Linked DNA regions of Homo sapiens. The protein of the gene in region 1 interacts with the protein of each later gene in a pairwise test. Each region holds a gene or a part of one and is shown on either strand. Other genes may lie near its edges.

Evidence for each region. Proteins that work in one complex are often made in the same cells at the same time.
Region 2: the proteins of SH3BP5 (region 1) and SOS1 interact in a two-hybrid assay, tested with the Homo sapiens proteins (2 studies listed by BioGRID and IntAct).

The regions. Positions count from the first base shown.
Region 1 is NC_000003.12:15,262,961-15,266,610, reverse strand, and holds part of SH3BP5 (SH3 domain-binding protein 5), read left to right. Parts: intron 1-2,112; exon of another isoform or gene 2,113-2,315; intron 2,316-3,650. UniProt on the Homo sapiens protein: Functions as a guanine nucleotide exchange factor (GEF) with specificity for RAB11A and RAB25. Inhibits the auto- and transphosphorylation activity of BTK. Plays a negative regulatory role in BTK-related cytoplasmic signaling in B-cells.
Region 2 is NC_000002.12:39,114,539-39,118,188, reverse strand, and holds part of SOS1 (son of sevenless homolog 1), read left to right. Parts: intron 1-3,650.

The sequences.
Region 1 (3,650 bases):
TGGGGAGCTTGGGCAGCATAGGACCCCTTCAGCCTCAGCTGTTTTGGCACTGAAGTAGCCTTTATGGGAAGGTGATAGCTTTTCATCCTCTGAGAGAGGAGGGCTGGCATCCTGGGAGGGAGAAATTGGCTTTTCTGATGTCTGCTGAAAGAGCTCAGACAGAGGAAGAGGGAAATGTGACTTGGAAATGAGAGGCACGAACTGTTTCTGAACTAGCCCCAGGTGGCTGCTGGAGAGGACACGACGCAGGGCCAGCCCTTCTCCTGGTTCACAGTGGATATGAGCCTGGGATGGCAGGTGAGGAGCTGCTCACGACAGCCTCCCTGACGTTGGTGGGTGTGAACCGCCTCCCTTCCACACAGTGGGAAGAAGCGCCTTCTTAGGTCTCATTGCCCAAGGACGCAGTAAGAATCAGGAAACAGTCTGAAACAGTCAGAATGGAGGTTCTCAGCAGACAGTGAGATTGCCTCCCTGGGCAAAGAGGCTCCTGACCGCCCCTCTGTGATGTTGGAAGAGATGTTGGGAGTGTAACTGAGGGTGCAAAGGCCCTGGAGATTGGAGAGTCGAGAAAGCTGTAACAGGAGGCTGAGGAGCTGTGCCTGGTGGATGTCTACTAAGCCGGTTGGGCCATTCTGCTGGTGTGGGACCCCGCGAAGAGGCTGGCCAAGCCAGATTGAAACACCCAATCAGTGCCCAGTGGTGCCCATGCGGGAAGGTGCCGGGTGTTTGCTATTTTCTGTGGGCTGATATGAGCAGGGTCCGGGGCTGAGCAGTATCTCTGTGGTCCCTGGATCTTCAGCATCTCCGGAGTATGCTGCTCCGGAGTATGGGGTGCAGTTTGCCACACCTACCCCTGAGCCGCTCTCCTCCTTACTTATCCCACCACACCTGACCCACATCACTGCACACAGCTCATGCCTGATGCTAGGCTGTAGATAGAGGAGCTCCTTGATTACCTAGGAGACATAACCAAGGCGACATGCTTAGTGACCTTCTTCCTCAAGGCAGGAAGCTGAGTTGTGTGGAGGTCTCTTCCAGGAGCTGGAGGGTTGTGTGTGTGTGTGTGTGTGTGTGTGTGTGTGTGTGTGTGTGTGTGTGACGGAGTCTCGCCCTGTAGCTCAGGCTGGAGTGCAGCGGCGCGATCTTGGCTCATTGCAACCTCCACCTCCCAGGTTCAAGCTTTTCTCCTGCCTCAGCCTCCTGAGGAGCTGGGACTACAGGCACCAACCACCACACCCAGCTAATTTTTGTATTTTTAGTAGAGACGTGGTTTCACCATGTTGGCCAGGTTGGTCTTGAACTCCTGACCTCAAGTGATCTGCCCGCCTTGGCCTCCCAAAGTGCTGGGATTACAGGCATGAGCCCCATCGCACCTGGCTGCCCTGGAGGTTTTGTATATATATGAGAAGTGGGGAGATAGGGACAGGATGTGGTAGACGTGGCCTGGTGGGGCGAAGCAGGGGACAGTGATGTGCTGGCCACTTCTTCAGTTTTCACTGCCAGTATTGCCATGGGCTCGGAGCTTTCCAAGTGTTTTATTGTAGAAAGCCTGTGCTTCTGCTTGCAGCCTAGAGGCCAAGATAGAATGAGGGCCTGTGTGCAGATGGTGAGAATCCTGCTTCTTACAGGGGACTCTTTCTGTACAGGACCCTCAAATTACAGGTTCTACAAGTCTGTTGAAAATGCATTCTGACAGCTCCTTAAAGGTAAACCTTTAATTGGATCTTTTTGTAATAAAACAATCACCCCCAACATGTTGTCTTTGATGAACCTGAAGGTTTGAGTTTTCATAAAGGTTATACCAGTAAATCCTTAAAGCTTAAGATTTACTGCTGTTTCCCCAAGTATCAAGCATGAGATATTTTTAGTGCATTTTGTTTCCTTGTGAAATATCTGGTTTTGGAAGCAAAGGGAAAGGATTCTCTTAGCCCTTTGGTCTTGGTTGAGAAGTCATGTGAGCAAGCATGTCTCCTCGTGCCAGCTTAGCTCAGTTCTCTCCTATTTTTCTTCTCTGATTTTGTTGTTTTTCTGTTTTTAAAAATTATCTGAAGCACTGAAGCCTTTGTTAAAAGATATTTTTAAGAAGGTAAAAGCATAATTGGGATACAAATATAAAATTTTCTCGTGTCAAATATTTTATTTCTCTCATTAAATAAGGAGGGATCTAACAGTGATGTTACAATTCTTGAATTCAAAAAATACAAACTCATAGAAAACCAAGAGTGCCTCAATGAATTACCAACAGATGCAAAATGGACTATTACAAGGGCAGTCAGTAATCCACTGCATCTGTGACACAGTTCATCTTCATTTCTCTGGAAAAAAAAAAAAACCATTTGTATTACTGTCAGTTTTCTACAACTTACAGGGTTGTAAAACAGCTTCAAGACAAAGTCAGAGATAGCCTGGAAGGGTGCCCTAGACAGGACACCCTGTAATTTTTAATGCCCATATAAAAGTCTTTCATAATTTTTCATGGTACCTTTAAAAATCCTTATCGTAAGTAATAAGTAAACTATCCTAGGGCTGATTGTGGCTGTTGACTGGAGGAGATGGTAGAACATTGGCAACCTTCCTCTGTGGCCTTCTTTTTTAACTGTGAACTAAAGACATGGTGGTACCTCCCTAAAATTGTTCTACGGGGTCTGAGAGAGCTGACTAGTGACCATGAGCCCTCTGGGCTCCTCTCGGATGCTCCCCAGAGAATACAGAATTAGAGAATAACCCTTTAGCCTAACCTCTACTGTCTCTCCGGTTTATTTTATAACACTGAGTGGTAGGCAGAAGACAGGGAAAGAAATCGCAAGCTGCTTATGTGGCCTGAACTGCGGTTTGTTTCCCTCCTCTTTCTTCAAGGCAGGCCTTGTTCTGATGCTTTTCTGTAGGTAAGCAAGGAGAGAATTAACATTGCCCATGTCTCTGGGACTGGGCCTGTGAGCTGCTTTTGTTTTTTGGCCATTGAGGGCCCTTGAGTATTGGTTTTGTAACTCATTTTTTTCAACAGACTTAACAAAGTGTTCCCACCAGAATTTCCCACCAGAACTTTGACTTGTCTTCTGCTCACAAATGTTTGTGTACCTCAAAATCTGATGTGAATGACTGGGTTTTAATTTAATTGCTTAAATGTAAAGTTTGCCCTTTCTGGATCCTGAGTTCTTCTGTGCACAGCCAACTAGTTCAGAATATTTGGGAAAGGACCAAACAATGGAAGTCATGGCTGCTTTGCTGGCTTGACTGCCATCGTGCCTGGCACGATGCCTAGTTCTTGGTTTTGGTGGTCTCCCCATTAGGTTCCCCATCTCTTAGGTTCCCACTGCTGCTATTTGGCCATTTGCCTGCCCATCAGGCCCCTGCCCCAAGGTGTGAACGGGAGGAGGTCTAGGTGGCTACTTAGATCGAGGAACCTGAGAAGAAAGTGGACAGCTGTTGAATCAGAAAATAGTTCAAAATTTTCTGGTTTTTGTTTTTCCATTTTCTTTCTCAGTCATTGCCACAGCCAATTTAGCTATTTAATCTTTCCTCACAAGGCTTTTTCAAAATAGATAAATAGGAAAAGAAAACCACTGTTGGGAAGTTGGTTTATTCTTAGTCTGACCACTAATTTGCTCAAATATATATCTAGATATAGATATCTATATATACATATATAT
Region 2 (3,650 bases), on another chromosome or scaffold:
AGACTCACTCAACCTGAACTGTCAAATCATCAGGGCTGAGTTGGATATTACTCCTTTGTTTTCTTTTTGCACCCTGTCCTAGCTCTGTGAATTTTAAGTTCCTATTTACTTGCCTATAACTAGATTGGATGCTCCTTGAGAACAGGGATGATATCTTACCCACATTTTATTCCCCATACTTATAGTGCTTGACATCTGGTAGGCACTCAATTTGAATAAATAGGTGAGGGGATATACAAACTAAAACTATCACTTCTCTCCTCCACCTGTCATTTCAGTTTTTCTTCTCGATTAATGGCTTTATTGTTACATTTGACTGGTTTAAAATGTTGGGGTCATCTCTGGCTTCTTTGTATTACTGTGCACACTCAGGTAGAGCCTGTATGTTCATTTCCCTTTGACATGTTCTTCTAGTCTATTCCTCCTCCGACTTCTCTAATTGAGTCTCCTTTGTCAGACTACTGTGATAACTTCTTAATGGGGTTCACTGGCCCCCACCTCACCTTCTGTTTTTCAAATCTCACCAGTTATAGGACACTTCTGAACATGTCACACTCAGAATTGTTGATGTCTTTTGAGTTCAACCTATGCTAAAGTGCACTTTTTAGCATAGAATTAACAGCAATTGATATTTGGCTTCATCCTGCTTTTCTGACTGGATTGTCTACCATAACCTTTTATCTCCTTTTTGCTTTAGCCAGTCCGGACTGCTACTTTTCCTGAATATGGCTGGAATGTCCCACTGTATCTGTTTCACCGCATCTATGAGTCTAAGTCCTATCTTATCTATTGCACAAATATATCATGCCTACTATAGACCAGGTATTGCCCTTGACACTCAGGCTAAAAAGGTAAATGACAGGGCCGGGCGCAGTGGCTCACGCCTGTAATCCAGCACTTTGGGAGAGCAAGGTGGGCGGATCACGAGGTCAGGAATTCAAGACCAGCCTGGCCAACGTGGTGAAACCCCATCTCTACTAAAAAATACAAAAATTAGCCTGGCGTGGTGGTGGGCACCTGTAATCCCAGCTACTCGGGAGGCTGAGGCAGGAGAATAGCTTGAAACCGGAAGACGGAGGTTGCAGTGGGGCGAGATTGCACCACTGCACTCCAACCTGGGCAACAAGAGCAAAACTCTGTCTCAAAAAAAAAAAAAAAAAGTAAATGACATAATCAGAAAAGACTAAATTAGAACATGATGGGAAGTGGCAGGGCATGTCTGGAGAGACAACTGGTTTATGAACAGTTTTTATATATGTTAAGCTAAGGAATTTAAATTTTTTCTTGGGTAATTAGAAGCCATTGATAAAGTTTCTTTTGTTTGTTTTTGTTTTGTTTGTTTGTTTTGAGACAGAGTCTTAACAGGCTGGAGTGCAGTGGTGCGATCTTGGCTCACTGCAGCCTCCACCTCCTGGGCTTAAGCTATCCTCCCACCTCAGCCTCCTGAGACTGTAGGCACACTGCCACATCCAGATAATTTTTGTATTTTTTGTAGAGATGGGGTTTCACCAGGCTGGTCTTGAACTCCTGGGCTCAAGCCATCTGCCTGCCTCAGCTTCCCAAAGTGCTAGGATTACAGGGTGAGCCACTGTGCCCAGCCAATAAGTTTTAAGTAGGGGAGTAACAGCACATTTTAATTTTAGAAAATTCACTTTGGCCATAGAATGGAAAATGGTTTGGAGAAGAATGAGACGTAAAGTGAGGAGAAAAGTTAGAAGCCTAGTTTAATAGTCCAGTCAAGAGATAATACACATTTGAACTAAGGGTGCATTTGAACAAGGATGGAAATATGGATGTGGATTTTATTTGAAAGAAGTTTACAAGGCAAAATTGACAGGATCTAGTAACTCACTGAGTGATTGGGGGAATGGTAATGGAACAGGAATAGTCTTGTTTCTGACTTGATTGTCTTTAGTCAGGATAGAGAATGTAGGAGAAGCTCTTAGGATGGAGAGAGGAGTGGCATAATAAGATGATTTTTGGAAATGTTGACTTAAAAGTTTGGGTTATTCAAGTGAACTTCTCCAACTGGCTATTGGTTGTTGGTATCTGATTAAGCAGATTTGGAACTTCTAGATGTGTAAGTAAAGCCATAAATATAGATGAAGCCTCTACAAAGACTTATACATGAATGTTCATGGCAGCTGTTTTCAGTCAAAAACTGGAAACAATCCAATGTTCGTCAGCAGGTGAATGAATAAGCAAATTGTGATACAAACAGTGGAATACTATTGGTTGTTGGTATCTGATGAAGCAGATTTGGAACTTCTAGATGTGTAAGTAAAGCCATAAATATAGATGAAGCTTATACAAAGACTTATACATGAATGTTCATGGCATCTCTTTTCAGTCAAAAACTGGAAAAAATCCAATGTTCGTCAACAGGTGAATGAATAAGCAAATTGTGATACAAACAGTGGAATACTACTCAGCAATAAAAAGGAACAAACTGGCTGGGTGTGGTGGCTCACACCTGTAATCCCAGCACTTTAGGAGGCCAAAGTGGGAGGATTACTTGAGCCCAAGAGTTCCAGGCCAGCCTAGGCAACATAATGAAACCCTGTCTCTACAAAAAACTTAAAAAATTAGCCAAAACATTTAAAAAAATTAGCCAGGTGTGGTGGCATGAGCCTGTAGTCCCAGCTGCTTGGGAGGCTGAGGTGGGAGCATTGCTTGAGTCTGAGAGGTCAAGGCTGCAGTGAGGTGTGATTGTGCTATTGCACTCCAGCCTGGGCAAAAAAATGAGACCCTGTCTCAAAAAAAAAAAAAAAAAAAAAAAAAAGAGAGAGAACAAATTTGATACAAATGACAACATGGCTGAATCTCAAAATAATTATACTCAATGAAAGAAGGGAAACCAAAAAAGAGTATATACTATATGAGTCTACTTATAGAACATTCTAGAAGGTGCAAACTAGTGCAGATCAGTGGTTGTTTAGGGAGAGGCTTTTTATGTTTACTTATCTTGATTGTGCTGATGGTTTCAGGGGTGTGTACATATCCTGAAATTTTTCAGATTGTATATTTTAAATATGTGCAGTTTATTGTATGTCAGTTGTACCTCAATGAAGGTATTTTAAAAAGTAGATGAGACCACACGCTGAAAATGATTTTAGTAAGACTGAAAAAGGGCTGGCATAAGAAGTGGGGGAAGGGAGTGGGAAATAGTGTATAGGGAGATAGCAGAGGAAAAGGAATGATGTAAGGAGACCGAGAAGCAAGGAGTCAGGCAGAAGGAATGAAACCCTAGTGTCTGAGAAGTTGAGAGAGGAATGCTTCAAGAAAAGAGTTGGCTGTGTGCGATGGCTCACACCTGTAATCCTAGCATGTTGGGAGGCCAAGGCAGGTGGATCACCTGTGGTCAGGAGTTTGAGACCAGCCTGGCCAACATAGTGAAACCCCTGTCTTTACTAAAAATACAAAAATTAGCCTGACGTGGTGGTGCACGCCTGTAATCCCAGCTACTCGGGAGGCTGAGACACAAGAATCCTGGGAGTTGGAGGCTTCAGTGAGCTGAGATCACACCACTGTACTCCAGCCTGGGTGACAGAGCTAGACTCTGTTTCAAAAAGAAACAAAAACAAATCAGCCGGGCCAGGTGGCTCACGCCTGTAATCCCAGCACTTTGAGAGGCTGAGGCGGGGGATCAC